Regions from separate parts of the Homo sapiens genome. Here regions 2 and 3 are each linked to region 1. The links come from fine-mapping of genetic effects on gene expression. A gene starts in region 1. Each other region holds a variant in brackets. All regions are shown on one strand. Distances are from middle to middle.

Region 1 (5,229 bases):
TTGAGCCCAGGAATTAGAGACCAGCCTGGGCAACATAGTGAGACCTTGTCTTTACAAGAAAAATTTAAAATGAGCTGGGCGGCTGGGCACGGTGACTCACACCTGTAGTCCCAGCACTTTGGGAGGCTTGAGGCGGGTGGATCACTTGAGGTCAGGAGCTGGAGATCAGCCTGGCCAACATGGTGAAACCCTGTCTCTACTAAAAGTACAAAAATTAGCTGGGTGTGGTGACGCATGCCTGTAATCCCACCTATTCGGAAGGCGGATGCATGAGAATCGCTTGAACCCGGGAGGAGGCGGTTGCAATGAACCGAGATTGTGCCACTGCACTCCAGCCTGGGTAACAGAGACTCTGTCTCAAAAAACAAAACAAAACAAAACAACAACAAAACCAGCGATAGTGGCATGTGCCTGTAGTCTCAGCTACTCGGGAGACTGAGGTGGAAGAATCATTTAATCCCAGGAGGATGAGGCTGCAGTGAGCCATGATTGGGCCACTGCACTCCAGCCTGGGCAACAGAGAGAGACCCTGTCTCAAAAACAAAACAGAACAAAAAAAGTGAAGTACTTTAGGTCCCCAGATTATGGTATAACATTTTTTTATATTTATTGGTCAAATCATATATCTCTTACATAAATAATTTGAGATACATTAAACAGCAAGTTAAATGTAAAAAGCAGAAATTTGTCTCCATATATTATCTAAAATTTTATTTCAAGTGATCTTTATAATACAATCTTTCATATTCTAAAAATAGAACATGAATATTTTTAGTCAAAATCAATCACTTCTTTATCATATACTACTCAAAAATGACTATTTATTTAACATTTCCTAGGTGTATTTTGTGAGTCAAAAAAGGATTAGGAAACCCCTGCCCCAATATGGCTCCTTACCTGAGAGAAACGGCATCTCTGCACCTCACAGCCAGGCCAAGCCCTGTTAATATACTCTCCCATGCACACAGCCAGAGTTCCTTATTTATATAGTGTCTCCAAGCACCCAAGAGTCCGCCAGTTCTAAAGGGAATTCATCACTGTCATCAGCTGGCCCTGGGTCTCCATGGGTACTGTGCCTGTCTCCTGGGCATGGCTTTTGCTGAACGTTACCACCCATCTTCAACACAAATACTCCTTCAAGAGACAGGTCAGGCCTGGTTTGGGGCTAGAGGTACAGAGACATCTAGGACCCAGGTCCTGCCCTAAGGGGCACCGCACAGATTACAGGATGGTGTGATAACTGGTGACGGTTATAACTCGAACTCAACTGGGGCTGGTGTCTGAGAAGCTTGAACTCAGTGTAGGGGCAGGAAAGTTCTCCTGGAGGAGGTGATGCATGATTAGGAGCCAGGCCCCCTAGAGGCGACGATGTTCCAAACATCAGGCTCGGCCTGTGCAAAGGCCATGGGCGTCTAAGACAATGACATGTGGGGGACTGAGCCCAGCTCACTGGAAGCAGAGCAGGCTACACTGACCTGGGGGCGTCTAGGCCTTCACTGCTTTCTACGTCCTCTGACCCATCCCCATCAGAATCTCAACAGACTCGTCACCTCCAGGGCCTGCACTGCTCTCCCATCGTTGCCCAACTTCTCTCGTTCCCTAGGGATGTTCAAGTCTGCCAACACTCAGAGGGCAGGGCCTGCTGGCATGCCCCAGGGTGAGGCTGTGCCCAGCGAGTCCCTCCTTTCGTGTCTCACAGTAGCCTGAGCCTGCAGAGCTGGCTCTCTAGCATCTAGCTAGAGACGGTTTGACCACAGTTCCCTGCGACCCATGATTCACTTTCGAGGGTACCCACAAGAGATGTGTCTGCTCCTCCAGACGCCGCCCAATGGGGTGAAGCGTCTGGCCCTGAGTCAGGATGCTGGGGTGCTGGCCGTCTCAGCTACCCACTCCTTTGCAACCCCAGGCAAGCAAGCTCGTTCTCTCCTCCCGGCCAGGGGCTTTCTAGATGAAATCAGCTGCACCCCTTTACTCTCAGGGACCTAAAATTTCGGCGACCATGTGGAGCCGTAAACCCTTCTGCCTCCTGTCCTCCCAGCCCCGCACCCACCTGGCGTTTTCGTGTCACGGAACCTCTGCACGTGCTCTTCTCGAGGCCTAGAGTCCCTCTCTCCCTCTGGCCAACTCCTATTTCATCCCTCACAGACCCAACTCGAACGCCATCATCCCCGGAAAGCGGGGATTCCTCCCTTCAGTCTCTGCTTCCTTATCTTGCTGTCCTGCTGCGCCGCGCCCTCAGTGTACGCGCAGAGCCCGGGGCTGAGGGCCTCTGGGTCCCTGGCTGGGTGCGCGGCCAGGAGCGCGACGGCCTGGGAAGCACCAGCGGCTCTCGAACTCGGCCCGGGCGCGGCGGGGTTAAGACACCCGGGCCTTGAGGGCCCCGCCTCCGGAGCGCTCCACCCGCGTGGGGGAAGCCTCCCCGGAGGCTCCGACCTCGCTCCTGCTTATGACCCTCGCAGCCACAGGAGCCCCCACTTAGGTGAACATTTCGGACGGGGCCCCGGCGGTTCAGACCCGGAGGCGGCTCCTCCCGGAGGCAGATCCTCCCGGCGTCGGCCTTCGGTCCTCCCCGCCAAAGCCCTCTTGGGACAAGCCGGGGATTCCCCGCCGCCGCCCGCCCCCTGGCGTCACGGAGTCCCCGCGAGGCCCCGCCCCGGCCTGGCGCCGTCCTGGGCGGGAGGAACGCGCCGCTAGGCGGGAGAGCGCGGCCATGGCGGGGCCGGGCGTCCCCGGTGCCCCCGCAGCGCGCTGGAAACGCCACATCGTGCGGCAGCTGCGGCTTCGGGACCGTACGCAAAAGGCGCTTTTCCTGGAGCTGGTGCCGGCCTGTGAGTGCGCCCCGGTGCTGAGAGGATGGCGGCTGAGGGGACGCGGCTACGGGCGCGGGGAGAGGGTTTGGCTGGCTCCTCCGCCTGTGACCCGAGTGCGCTGTGCCTTATGCCTTGAGCCTGTGCGTTACGCCCATCCCGACTGCCAGGACTCCGCCCCTTGCCATCCAGGCTCTGGTTAGAACCTGGACGAGCCCCTCCTGGTCCCCCTGCCCTCGTCGCCCCTCAGGACGGGCTCTGCCTCCCACAAGCTGGGCTTCCGAGACGCAAGTGCGTCCTCGGGTGTTGGTTTTGCAGGGTCTCTTTTGCCTCCCCACCCGGGCAGTCCCCGGGGTAGGGGCTTGATCAGTGCACTTAGTCTCGGTAGCGCAGTGAAAGAACGCGGGACTTGTCCAGAGCAGCCACTTATTGGCCCATCCGGAGAGGGGCGACACTCGGAACCTCTAAGGAGGAGGCTGTGCATCTCAGGCTCTGCCGCTGACAGGCGACGCTGGCACAGGCTTATGGAACACCTCCCTGTCAGCCTACCCAGCCTGAGGGGGCATCAGGGGGCCCCGGGCTGCTGGTGGATGCTGGCTGAGCCCAGCGAAGTCGGACTCTCAGAATTGTTTCTGGGCAGCTGGTCAGGATAGGGTGTGGCATTTCAAGAGGGGATGAACAGGTGTGCCTGTGTGTCGCACCTCTGGCCGCCTGCGATTGTATGTCTGTGGTTGGAAGTCTAACCACAATCCCTGCGGCTCTCTCACTGGGGCTAATCTTGGCCAAACCCCCACAATCAAATCTGCTCTTAGCCAGGAAAATTTCTCTGCAAGCTTCCAGGCTGCTGGTCCTCTACCTTCAGGGTTGCGAGGCCAGCCCCCACCTCCAGCAGCCACACTTCTCCACTGCTCAGACAGACAGTGGAACCGTCCAGTTTGAGGGAGGGGGTCACCGCCCCCCCAACCCCTGCCCCCCGCCCCGACCCAGGGAGCTGTGAGTCTGAGGGACTAGAGAGATCTGGAGGGCTGAAATCAGACTGAAGGGCCAGTCTTGAAACCTTGGGCAGATCACATCGCTAAGCCTCAGTCTTCTTACTTGTTAATTGGGTATAGAGACCTTCTTTAGGTTTGCTGGGTGCTGCAGTACCCTGGGGGCTGAGGTGGGGTTTTCATGAGAACTAGGCCAGGCCCAGGGCCTCAGTCAAGGTGACAGGGCACTGAGTGTGGGAAGGAAGTTGATGAGGAGGGAGCTAGGCCCGGACTTACCACCCCACCCTCCCCTGGAACTGGTGAGAAAAGAGGAAGTGACTGTTGATGGGGGAGGGTGTTCCAGGGTCAAACCACCAACCTCCAGAATGTCGGCTGGATAATTGCTCAAGGACTTTCTATTCTGGCCTGGGGGTACCTTACACCAGGGCTGGGGAAGTTGGGATTATTTATTTATTTATTTATTTGAGATGGAGTCTTTGCTCTGTTGCCCAGGCTGGAGTGCAGTGGTGTGATCTCCGCTCACTGCAAGCTCTGCCTCCCAAGTTCACGCCTGTCTCCCGTCTCAGCCTCCCGAGTAGCTGGGACTACAGGCGCCTGCCACCACGCCTGGCTAATTTTTTGTATTTTTTAGTAGAGATGGGGGTTTCACCGTGTTAGCCAGGATGGTCTCGATCTCCTGACCTCGTGATCCGCCCGCCTCGGCCTCCCAGAGCGCTGGGAATTCAGGTGTGAGCCACCGCGCCCGGCTGGGGATTATTTTTAAGTGCAGAAAGCTAGAGCCCTTGGAGGGGAAGTGACTTGCCAAAGGCCATTGACAGGTAGAGCTCGGTTTATTTCATCACTTTCTGGGGCTAAGCCTTGCTCTGAGGCAGGGATGAATCAATCCCAGGCCCCTTCCTTCCCTCAGGACCCTCAGCGGGCAGTACCCCGCAGTGGTCATCCTTCTGTCCCTGGGAGAGCAGGTCCTCTTCCACGTGGGCCTGGGGACCGGTGCTATGAGGACACTGCTAGGGCTGAAGGTCCTGTAGAACTGCACAGATGCCCCTCAGGCACAGGGCAGAGGCCAGCCTGCCAGAAGCTTCCCCATCCCTAGCATCTCTGGGCTCCTTCAGCCCTTTTAGCCGGAGATAAATTGCATGCCAGGGGGCTGCTGGGTATCTGTCTCTGCCCCAGGCTCACTCTCTTGCACTCTCCAGATAACCATCTCTTAGAGAAGGCTGAGCTGCTGGACAAGTTCTCAAAGAAGCTGCAGCCGGAGCCAAACAGTGTCACTCCCACCACCCACCAGGGCCCCTGGTAAGTGTATGTGGGTCCGTGGTCACAAAGGGCTGCCTGTGCTGGGGCCCTGCCCCTGCTGCCTGTGCTGGGTTCATTCTCTCCCTAGTGCCTCATCAGCCCTTGGCTGCTGCCCAGGGGTGGTGGGGGTGGTGGAG
Region 2 (5,229 bases), 190 kb after region 1:
AGGTGGCTCATGCCTGTAATCCCCGCACTTTTGGAGGCTGAGGCAGGCAGATCACTTGAGGTCAGGAGTTCAGGACCAGCCTGGCCAACATGGTGAAACCCTGTCTCTACTAAAAATACAATAAAATTAGCCAGGTGTGGTGGCACACGCCTGTAATCCCAGCCACTCAGGAGACTGGGGTGGGAGGATCACCTGAGCCCAAGAGGCAGAGGTTGCTGTGAGCGAGATCATGCCACTGCACTCCAGCCTGGGTGACAGAGCGAGACTCTGTCTCAAAAAAAAAAAGTTAATTTGGAACAAGGATTGGGGAATAGTAAGATTAATGATTCAAGGTAATGTAATAAGTTAGGGAGGGATATTATAATCTCTAAGGTAATTACTAAAAGAATATAGGATTTAAAAAGTAAGAAGCTAATAGTGGAGGAAAAAATTGATAATAAAAAATATTAGATTGCTTAATATCACCAACCATCAGTGAAATACAGATCAAAGCCACAATAAAATATTAATTACCTCACACCTGTTAGGTGGCTATTATTCTTTAAAAGGATAACAGATGTTGGCAAGGCTGTAGAGAAATTGGAGCCCTTGTGCACTGTTGGTGGGAATGCCAAATGATGCAGCTGCTATGCAAAACAATTCTGGTCATTTGGGAAAATGAAAAATCTGGGATTGCTACCTTTAAGATTTATAAATCTGGCACATTGGGGGTCACCATGTGGAGAGAGTTGTTAGTGAGTGAAGCCATTCAGAAAAGCAGAGCTAATGGATGGAAAGAAAGTCTGAATTCTAATACCATCATTTGAACCCCTAGATCCACCCATGCTTGAAGTCCTTCAATTTTCAGTTATACAAGCAGATACATTCCCTTCTTGGCTTAAAGCAGTTTGAAGGAGGTTTCTTTCATTTGCTATCTCAGAGTCCTGACAGGTATACCCAATATGTACTGAATATTTAACAATTGCTTAGATGTAACATAGATCATCAGCAATAATATAAAACAAGTTAATTCACAGACATGAGCATTTGTTGAATCTTACCAAAGATTCTTTTTTTTTTTTTTTTTTTTTTGAGATAGAGTCTCACTCTGTCACCCAGGCTGGAGGGCAGTGGCACGATCTCAGCTCACTGCAATCTCCACCTCCCGGGTTCAAGCAATTCTCCTGTCTCAGCCTCCCGAGTAGCTGGAACTACAGGTGCACGCCACCACACCTGGCTAATTTTTGTATTTTTAGTAGAGATGGGGTTTCACCATATTGGTCAGGCTGGTCTTGAATTCCTGACCTCAGGTGATCCACCCGGCTTGGCCATCCAAAGTGCTGGGATTACAGGCGTGAGCCACCACACCCGGCCTTATCAAACATTCTTTGCCCAGGAATGTCAGTTAAATTCAGGTCTGAGATTACTTCATCAATGGAAGAGAAAAGCACCAGAGGTAGTTAAACTCTCTAAATATTCTGATATTGAGTAAGGTGGCAGTAATTCAATTAGATCTGATGAATGCACTGGAAATTTGAAATGCAGTATTTCCTCCTGGTTGGGAAGTTATACTAGTATTAATTCTCTGCCCCTACCTTACACCCTCTTTCTGCACAATCAGACACACACACACACACACACAAACACACACACACACACACTTTCTTCCAACTCAAAATCACTGGCCAGTGATCACATAGGTTACTCACTATGTTTGTTTTGAAAGAGATATTTTTTGGCAAAGATAAAACACAGGCATTCTTATACAAATATGTTTAACTGACTAATATTAGGTGAGTGCTCTAAAGAAATTAACATTTTACATAAAGACACATATACATCTAACATATTGATTTCATGCTACTAGAATCATCTTTGGCAAACGGAAAATTGGGGGGTTTTTGGTGGGAAAGGTGTTTGTAAAAATGTTCTGAAAATCCTAATGACAATTAGAATCAAAACACTGGATGGCTTCTAAAATATTATTTCCCGAAATAATTACTTTAATATTTTCTTTCTTTTACTTTAATATTTTCTAAAGTATTAATACTTCCACAAGAAAATTTTAATTACTTATTAGGTATAATGATAATCTCAATTTTTGTAACTCTATTTCCAAAAGAACACAATTCAATCACCTATTTTCAACAGCCAACTTTTCTAAAAAGTCACATTAAGCAATGCCATTTTCCTATGAATTTTTTATTTCTGTGTAATAAAATATGTCCATTTGAAAACATTTACTCATGTGTAACCCATATAATTAAAGTTTAGAGTCCATCAGGTTTTTTAAAGTAAGTTTTTTATGTTTAGTCAAAATGTGT[T/C]AATTTCCTTTAAATTATTATACAAAATGGGTCAAGTTGAAAGTAAGACAAATTAATGTAAACTTTTTTCAAGAACTAGTGGGATTAATAACCTTGTAACTATTCTAATACACATCAAACTATACCGATATTGTGAAACTAAGTAGATCTATGTACTTGAATTATGCCGAAAAGCGGTATTACTAAAAAGTATTTACTGAGCTTTTTGAACGTCCATGGATTTGAATTACATTCATTTTTAGCAGTTAATAAAACATAGTACTTAATGAGAACATGTTGAAATCAGAAAATCCTAGTAAAATGTCAACCAGAAACATATGGGACCATATAGTTTTAAATAAAATTTAGCATAACCTTGCAGATTATAAATGTAGCACTGGGATATTAAAATGCATATAAGAACAGAAATAAAAACAATACCCTTTTTAGTTGCTGTTCTTTTAAGCTTCTCACTGTCCTTGCAGGCTCAGAAATGAAGTTTTTATAGTTTTCACATATATTCATCCGAGACTGGGCTACCTGCATTGTTCCCTCGAGAAAAGATTTCCAAACGGGATACATGCTCCTAAATTCAAAGAGGGATAGAAAAGCATTAGGCAGGGAACAGGAAGAAAAAGTTGGCTAACCTTTTGCTCACAGGGCAGCACTGACAGAATAAATGAATGTCTTCTTTAATGTATTTATAATGGCTTATAGGCAATATGTCAGCACACATAACAAGCAACATGGCATATACTCTATTCTTCTTATAGCTCAGCAATAGGGAGTTCTGATTCATTAGTTATTCTTAATAATGGAGTAAAGTGCTACAAGAATTACAAAGCTAACACTATAAAAATTAGTGAATATTTCAGACTCTCCAAGTCTTTTGCTGTCACAGGGCCATAATTATGAATATCAAGTTTTATTACTTCATTAAGTTATTTTCCTAATTTTAGTAATAAGGTAACTGAGGCCCAGAGAGATTTTAGAGTATCACTTTAGGTCATATAAGAAGAAGGTGGCACTACTGAGATACAAGACGAAGATTGGGTACCTGTATATATAGTACATTGTCTTTCAACGACATCATTTTACTCTTATATAAACTGACGCGGCTGGAAAAATATATCATGAACAACTGTTGATGTGCTTGCAAAGTCTATTTTGTCTGACAAAAGAAATCTATAATAGTGTGGCTCTACATCTGTCTCCCTGTTACAACAATGCTTAGCATCACACTGTGCTTTGGATTCATTCCAAGCAAGTGCCATCACCTTTGCTTGATAAATGTGCTCAGCAATCTCAGTCAAGTCAAAGAATTATTAATCCTTTGCTTTTTCTAGCCAACTTCCTCTTCAACCTTCTTTCCTACTTGCTAAATGCCTTAGTCAATTCTAGCATGCTCCTACACTATTTATAAACACAATCGATAATTTATAACAATGGCAATGCTTTATTTTTTAAAATGAGTCCTTAAAGTGAAATTCTGATAGATTATAATATTCATCTCCTGAGATTTCCCTTTTGTGGGAAATCCATATCGATTTTCAACCACAGCAACATGTGGGACTAAATGCTATACAGAATGCTCACTGTGGTCAACAGATGACAGTGTAGAAGCAAGAAAAAGAAAAATTGCCTGGGTCCCTATCTTAGTTAGAAGTAAAGGAAAAAACTTGATAAACTATGGTTTTCAACCATGGAGTCTTACAAATTTGTTCATGTAATATACCAGATGAATCGGTTTAGATGGAAATAGTCATTATTTAGGCAGAGGTGTATCACTATTCCTTTGGAAAGATTCAATGTGTTGCACCAGCAAAAACTGTCAGCATAAAAGCACTGATGAAGTTAAGAGCAGCAAAACGAATGCTCTCCATGGCCTCACTGCATGACAACCAATGGAACTTGCAATGTAAACTCACCACAGGCTCTCCCTCCTAAGCAGTCCCAACAATTGATTTTCTTGAAGAATGTACTGAGAGAAAAATTCAGTACTATGATTTGTAACTATTAATTTATACTTAAAATACATTTTAAAATAATAAAAAAAATGAAAAAGAACCATTATAAATTGTGATAGGAAGAAAGAGAGGAAGGGAGATACCCTTCATCCATGTTCTTCTCTCAGTGTAACACCCTCTTCTCTTTATCCCTTCTCCTAGTTAATAGCTGTTTGCCCTTCCAGTCTCAGTTTAAATGTAACTTCCTTTGGGAAGTCTTTCACCGTCACCACCAAGCCAACCCCCAAACTCAATCAAGTTATTCTTTGTTAGTTGTTCTTGGTTCCAGCACTTTTCTTTTAATTATAAATATTTTAATGTAATTGTTTATTAACATCTGTCCCTCTCACTATAGTGAAAGCTCCATGAAGGCAGGGGTGTATGTCTTGCTATTGCAAGGACCTAGCAAATAAAGAATGGTTACAATAATATATGTTGAAGGAGTAAATAAATGAATGGATGAATGTATTAACTATGAAGACTGTACAATAAAAAGACAAATCCTTTCATTAAAAAGATAGTTTAAAAAGAGACCTTTAGAGTTTAGCAGATTTATAGCAGGGAAACATATCCTGAACACTGATATACCATGAAAAGCACAGAATTCAGTCACCAGTCAGAAGACCTAAGTTCAAGTTCTAGTTTTAACAAAATAATCATAAGTAGCACACTTCACTATACTTTCATTTCCTCAACTGGCAAATGGAGAAATAACAAAAATACCTGCACCACTTACCTCACAGGGCTATTTTAAAAATTAAATGCAAATGATATGAAAATTCATGATACACAGATTCTTTTAAATGAATACATAGTAACAGCAGCAGAATTGTAACAAATAGAAGCACTTCTTGTTAACATAATAGTGGTACTCCCAATGGTAGTGGTGTTTTTCATTCCAATTAAGGAAAAATAATCATAGGTCATAGAGTGATTTTTTT
Region 3 (5,229 bases), 100 kb after region 1:
TATAGAAATGCTACTTATTTTTGTATGTTGATTTTGTATCCTGCAACTTTACTAAAGGTGTTTATCAGTTTGAATATTTTGGTGGAGTCTTCAGGTTTTTCAAAATATAAGCCTACATCATCTGCAAAGAATAATAATTTGACTTCTTCCTTTCCACTTTGGATGCTCTTTCTTTCTTTTGTCTGACTGCTGTAGCTAGGACTTCCAGTACTATGTTGAACAACAGTGGTAAAAGTGGGCATCCTTGTCATGTTCCAAATCTTAGAGGAAACGCATTCAGTTTTTCTCCATTCAATATGATACTCATTGTGGGTCTGTTATACATGGCTTTTATTGTATTGAGATATGTTCCCTCTATACCCAGTTTATTGAGGGGTTTTATCATAAGGGGAGGTTAAATTTTATCAAATGCTTTTTCAGTATCAATTGAAATGATCATATAGTTTTTGCCCTTCACACAGAGTGATTTGTGTATGTTGAACCATCCCTGCATTCTTGGGATACATTCCACTTGGTCATGATGAATAATCTTTTTAATGCGTTGTTGAATTCAGTTTGCTAGTATTTTGTTGAGGATTTTTGCATTAATGTTCATCAGGGATACTGGCTTGTAGTTTTTATTTTTTGATGTGTCTTTGTCTGATTTTGGTATCAGGGTAATGCTGGCCTTAGAGAATGAGATGGGAAGTATTCCCCCCTCCTCTATTTTTTGGAATTGGTTGAGTAAAATTGGTATTAGTTATTCTTTAAATGTTTGATAAAATTCAGCAGCAAAGCCACCCAGTCCCAGGCTTTTCCTTGCTGAGAGACTTTCTATTACAGCTTTGATCTTGTTACTTGTTTTTTCATCTCTTCAGGTTTTGAATTTCTTCATGGCTCAATCTTGGTAGGTGTATTAGTCCATTCTCACATTGCTATAATGAACTACCTGAGACTGGGTAATTTATAAAGAAAAACAGTTTAATTGACCCATGGTTCTGCAGGCTGTACAGGAAGCATGGCTGGGGAGGCTTCCGGACACTTACAATCATGGCAGAAGGCAAAGGGGAAGCAGCTTTGTCTTACGTGGCAGGAGCAGGAGGAAAAGAGAGAAGGGGGAGGTGCTACACACTTTTAAACAACCAGATCTCATGAGGACTCACTCACTACCAAGAGAACAGCAAGGGGGAACTCCATCCCCGTGATTTAATTACCTCCCACTGGCCCCTCCTCCAACATTGGGGATTATTATAATTTGATGAGATTTGGGTGGGGACACAAATCCAAACCATATTGGTAGGTTGCATGCATCTAGGAATTTATCCATTTTTTTTCTTTTTTTGAGACAGAGTCTCAGTCTGTTGCCCAGGATGAAGTGCAGCAGTGCAATCCTGACTCACTGCAAACTCTGCCTCCCAGGTTCAAATGATTTTCACACCTCAGCCTCCCGAGCAGCTGGGATTTCAGGCATGTGCCACCACACTTGGATAATTTTTGTATTTTTAGTAGAGACAGGGTTTCGCCATGTTGGCCAGGCTGATCGCGAACTCCTGGCCTCAAGTGATCCACCCACCTTGGCCTCCCAAAGTGCTGTGATTACATGTGTGAGCCATCACACCCAGCCCTATTTATCCATTTCTTCTGGGTTTTCCAATTTATTGGCATATATTGTTCACAGTAGCCTCTAATGGTCCTTTGAATTTCTGTGGTATTGGTTGTAATGTCTCCTTTTTCACTTCTGATTTTATTTATTTGGTTATTCTCTTTTTTTCCTCACTAGTCTGGCTAAAGGTTTGCTGATTTTCAACAGTCAAGCCGAGAGCCAAATTACTAATGGACTCCCTTTCACAACTGATATACAAAAAAACCAAAAAAAACCCAAAAAAAAAACAAAAAAAAAAACCCTAGAAATACAGCTAACAAGGGAATTGAAGGACCTCTAAAAGGAGAACTACAAATCACTGCTGCTCAAATAAATTAGAGATGATACAAACAAATGAAAAAACATACTATGCTCATGGACAGGAAAAATCAATATCATAAAAATGGCCATACTGCCTTAAGCTATTTATTTATTTATTTATTTATTTCAGAAGGAGTCTCACTGTCGCCCAGGCTAGAGTGCAGTGGCATAATCTCAGCTCGCTGCAAACTGCGCTTCCTGGGTTCAAGTGATTCTCCTGCCTCAGCCTCCCGAGCAGCTGGGACTACAGACATGTGCCACCACTCCTGGCTAATTTTTGTATTTTTAGTGGAGATGGGGTTTCACCATGTTGGCCAGACTGATCTTGAACTCCTGACCTAAAGTGATCTGCCCACCGTGGCCTCCCAAAGTGCTGGGATTACAGGTGTGAGTCAGGTGCC[C/T]AGCCTGCCCTAAGCAATTTATAGATTCAATGCTATTCCCATTGAACTACCATTGACATTCTTTGCAGAACTAGAAAAAACTATTTTAAAATTCATATGAAACCAAAAGATTCTGAATAGCCAAGGCAATCCTAAGCAAAAAGAACAAAGCTAGAGGCATCACGCTACCCAACTTCAAACTATACCACAGGGCCACAGCAACCAAACAGCATGGTACTAGTACAACAGACACATAGACCAATGAAACAGAATAGAGAACCCAGAAATAAGACCGCACACCTAAAACCACCTGATCTTCAACAAACCTGACAAAAAGCAATGGGGAAAGGATTCCCTATTTAATAAATGGTGCTGGGATAACTGGCTAGCCATATGCAGAAAATTGAAACTGGACCCCTTCCTTACACCATATACAAAAGTCAACTCAAGATGGACTAAAGACTTAAATGTAAAACCCGAAACTATAAAAACCCTAGAGGAAAACCTAGGCAATACCATTCAGGACATAGGCATGGGCAAAGATTTCATGATGAAGATGCCAAAAGCAATTGCAACAAAAGCAAAAATTGACAAATGGGATCTAATAAAACTTAAGAGCTTCTGCACAGCAAAATAAACTATCAACGGAATAAAAAGGCATCCTACAGAATGGGAATTTTTTTTTTTTTTTTTTTTGCAAACTAAGCATCTGACAAAGGTCTAATACCCAGCATCTATAAGGAACTTAAACAAGTTTACAAGAAAGAAACAAACAACTTCATTCAAAAGTGGGCAAACGACATGAACAGACACTTCTGAAAATAAGACATACATGTGGCCAGCAATCATATGAAAAAAACTCAACATCACTGATCATTACAGAAATGCAAATCAAAACCACCATGAGATACCATCTCACACCAATAAGAATGGTTATCAATAAAAAATTAAAAAAACAACGGATGCTGGCAAGGTTGTGGAGAAAAAGGAACACTTTTACACTGTTGGTAGGAGTGTAAATTAGTTCAACCATCGTGGAAGACAGGGTGGCAATTCCTCAAAGACCTAGAGACAGAAAAACCATTTGACCCAGCAATCCCGTTACTGAGTATAACCCCAAAGGAATATACATTGTTCTATTATAAAGACATATGCCTGCTTATGTTCATTGCAGCACCATTCACAATAGCAGAGACATGGAACAAACCTAAATGCCCACCAATGATAGACTGGATATAGAAAATGTGGTACATGGTCGGGCGTGGTGGCTCATGCCTGTAACCCCAGCACTTTGGCCAAGGTGGGTGGATCACCTGAGGTCAGGAGTTCAAAACCAGCCTGGCCAACAAGGCAAAACCCCAGCTCTACAAAAATACAAAAATTAGCCGGGCGCGGTGGTGGGCGCCTATAATCCCAGCTACTCGGGAGGCTGAGGCAGGAGAATCGCTTGAACCTGGGAGGCAGAGGTTGCAGTGAGCCGAGATCACGCCATTGCTCTCCAGCCTGGGTGACAGAGCAAGACTCTGCCTCAAAAACAAAAAACAAAAAGAAAAGAAAAGAAAATGTGGTACATATACACCACAGAACACTATGCAGCCATAAAAAAGAATGAGATCGTGTCCTTTGCAGGAACATGAATGGAGCTGGAGGCCACTATCCTTAGCAAACTAATGTAGGAACAGAAAAGCAAATACCACATGTTCTCATTTGTAAGTGGGAGCTAAATTATGAGAACACATGGGAACAACGCACACTAGGGCCTACCAGAGGGTAGAGGGTGGAGGGTGGGAGGAGGGAGAGAATCAGGAAAAATAACTAATGGGTACTAGGCTTAATACGTGGGTGATAAAATAATGTGTACCAAACCCTCCATGACACAAGTTTACCTACATAATCTGCACATCCTGCACATGTACCCCTGAAATTAAAATTAAAGGGAAAAAAAGGTTTATCAATTTTGTTAATCTTTTCAAAAAACTAGCTTTTAATTTCATTGACCTTTTGGTACACAACTTTTTTTTTTTTTTTTTTTTTTTTAAAGAGACAGGGTCTTGCTCTGTCACCCAGGCTACAGTACAGTAGTAGCATGATCATAGCCTGCTGCAGCTTCCAATTCCTGGGCTCAAGTAATCCTCCCACTTGGGCCTCCCGAGTAGTTGGGACAACAGGTATGCAGCACCATGTCTGGCTAATTTAAAAAATTTTTTTGTAGAGATAGGGTCTTGCTATGTTGCCTAGGCTGCTCTTGAACTCCTCAGCTCAAGCAATTCCCCCACCTTGGCCTTCCAAAGTATTGGGATTACAAGCGTGAGCCACTGTGCCCAGCCTCCTTTGTTCACTTTTATATTGGGTTGTCTCTGATGTTGAGTTGTAAGAGTTCTTTGTATATTCTGAATATGAAACTTTTATCAGATATGTGATGTGCAAATATTTTCTCTCATCATTTGGGTTGATTTCACATTCTTAATAATGTCCTTTGATGCACAAAAGCTTTTAATTTGATACAGTCTAATTATCTATGTTTTCTTTCGTTACTTGTGCTTTCAACGTCAAATCTGAGAATGCACTGCCAAATCAAGGTCATAAAGATCTATCTCTGTTTTCTCTTATAAGTTAGGTCATTGATCAATTTTGAGTTAATTTTGTGAGGTAAGGGTTCACAACTTCATTGAACTTCATTCTTTTTTTTTTTTTTTTTTTTTTTTTTTTTTTTTTGAAGCAGAGTGTTGCTCTGTCGCCCAGGCTGGAGTGCAGTGGTACGATCTCAGCTCACTGCAACCTCCACCTTTCGGGTTCAAGCGATTCTCCTGCCTCAGCCTCCCAAGCAGCTGGGACTACAGGCACCCACCACCACGCCCAGCCAATTTTTGTATTTTTAGTAGAGATGAGGTTTCACCATATTGGCCA

What was found. PIP is the estimated chance that this variant, and not a neighbour inherited with it, causes the effect.
Region 2: its variant is the best candidate, but not a certain one, in a credible set for the expression of ATG16L2 in whole blood (TOPMed, PIP 0.77).
Region 3: its variant is the best candidate, but not a certain one, in a credible set for the expression of ATG16L2 in whole blood (TOPMed, PIP 0.81).

Annotation. Positions count from the first base shown.
Region 1 is chr11:72,811,736-72,816,964 of GRCh38, forward strand. ATG16L2 (autophagy related 16 like 2) reads left to right here and starts at 2,676. Exons shown (of 18, transcript NM_033388.2): 1 at 2,676-2,828; 2 at 4,993-5,092. The coding sequence starts at 2,711. LOC107984421 (a long non-coding RNA gene) reads right to left here and starts at 2,332. Exons shown (of 3, transcript XR_007062771.1): 1 at 898-2,332. RefSeq lists enhancers at 939-998, 1,159-1,288, 3,299-3,448 and silencers at 1,829-1,918, 2,319-2,768.
Region 2 is chr11:72,998,267-73,003,495 of GRCh38, forward strand. FCHSD2 (FCH and double SH3 domains 2) reads right to left here. Exons shown (of 20, transcript NM_014824.3): 5 at 2,724-2,868. Among named protein-coding and RNA genes, the nearest start is that of FCHSD2, 140 kb to the right of the region's middle. The variant T/C (reference allele first, on the strand shown) is at 2,304.
Region 3 is chr11:72,911,966-72,917,194 of GRCh38, forward strand. The region is part of intron 9 of FCHSD2 (FCH and double SH3 domains 2); the gene reads right to left. Among named protein-coding and RNA genes, the nearest start is that of ATG16L2, 100 kb to the left of the region's middle. The variant C/T (reference allele first, on the strand shown) is at 2,344.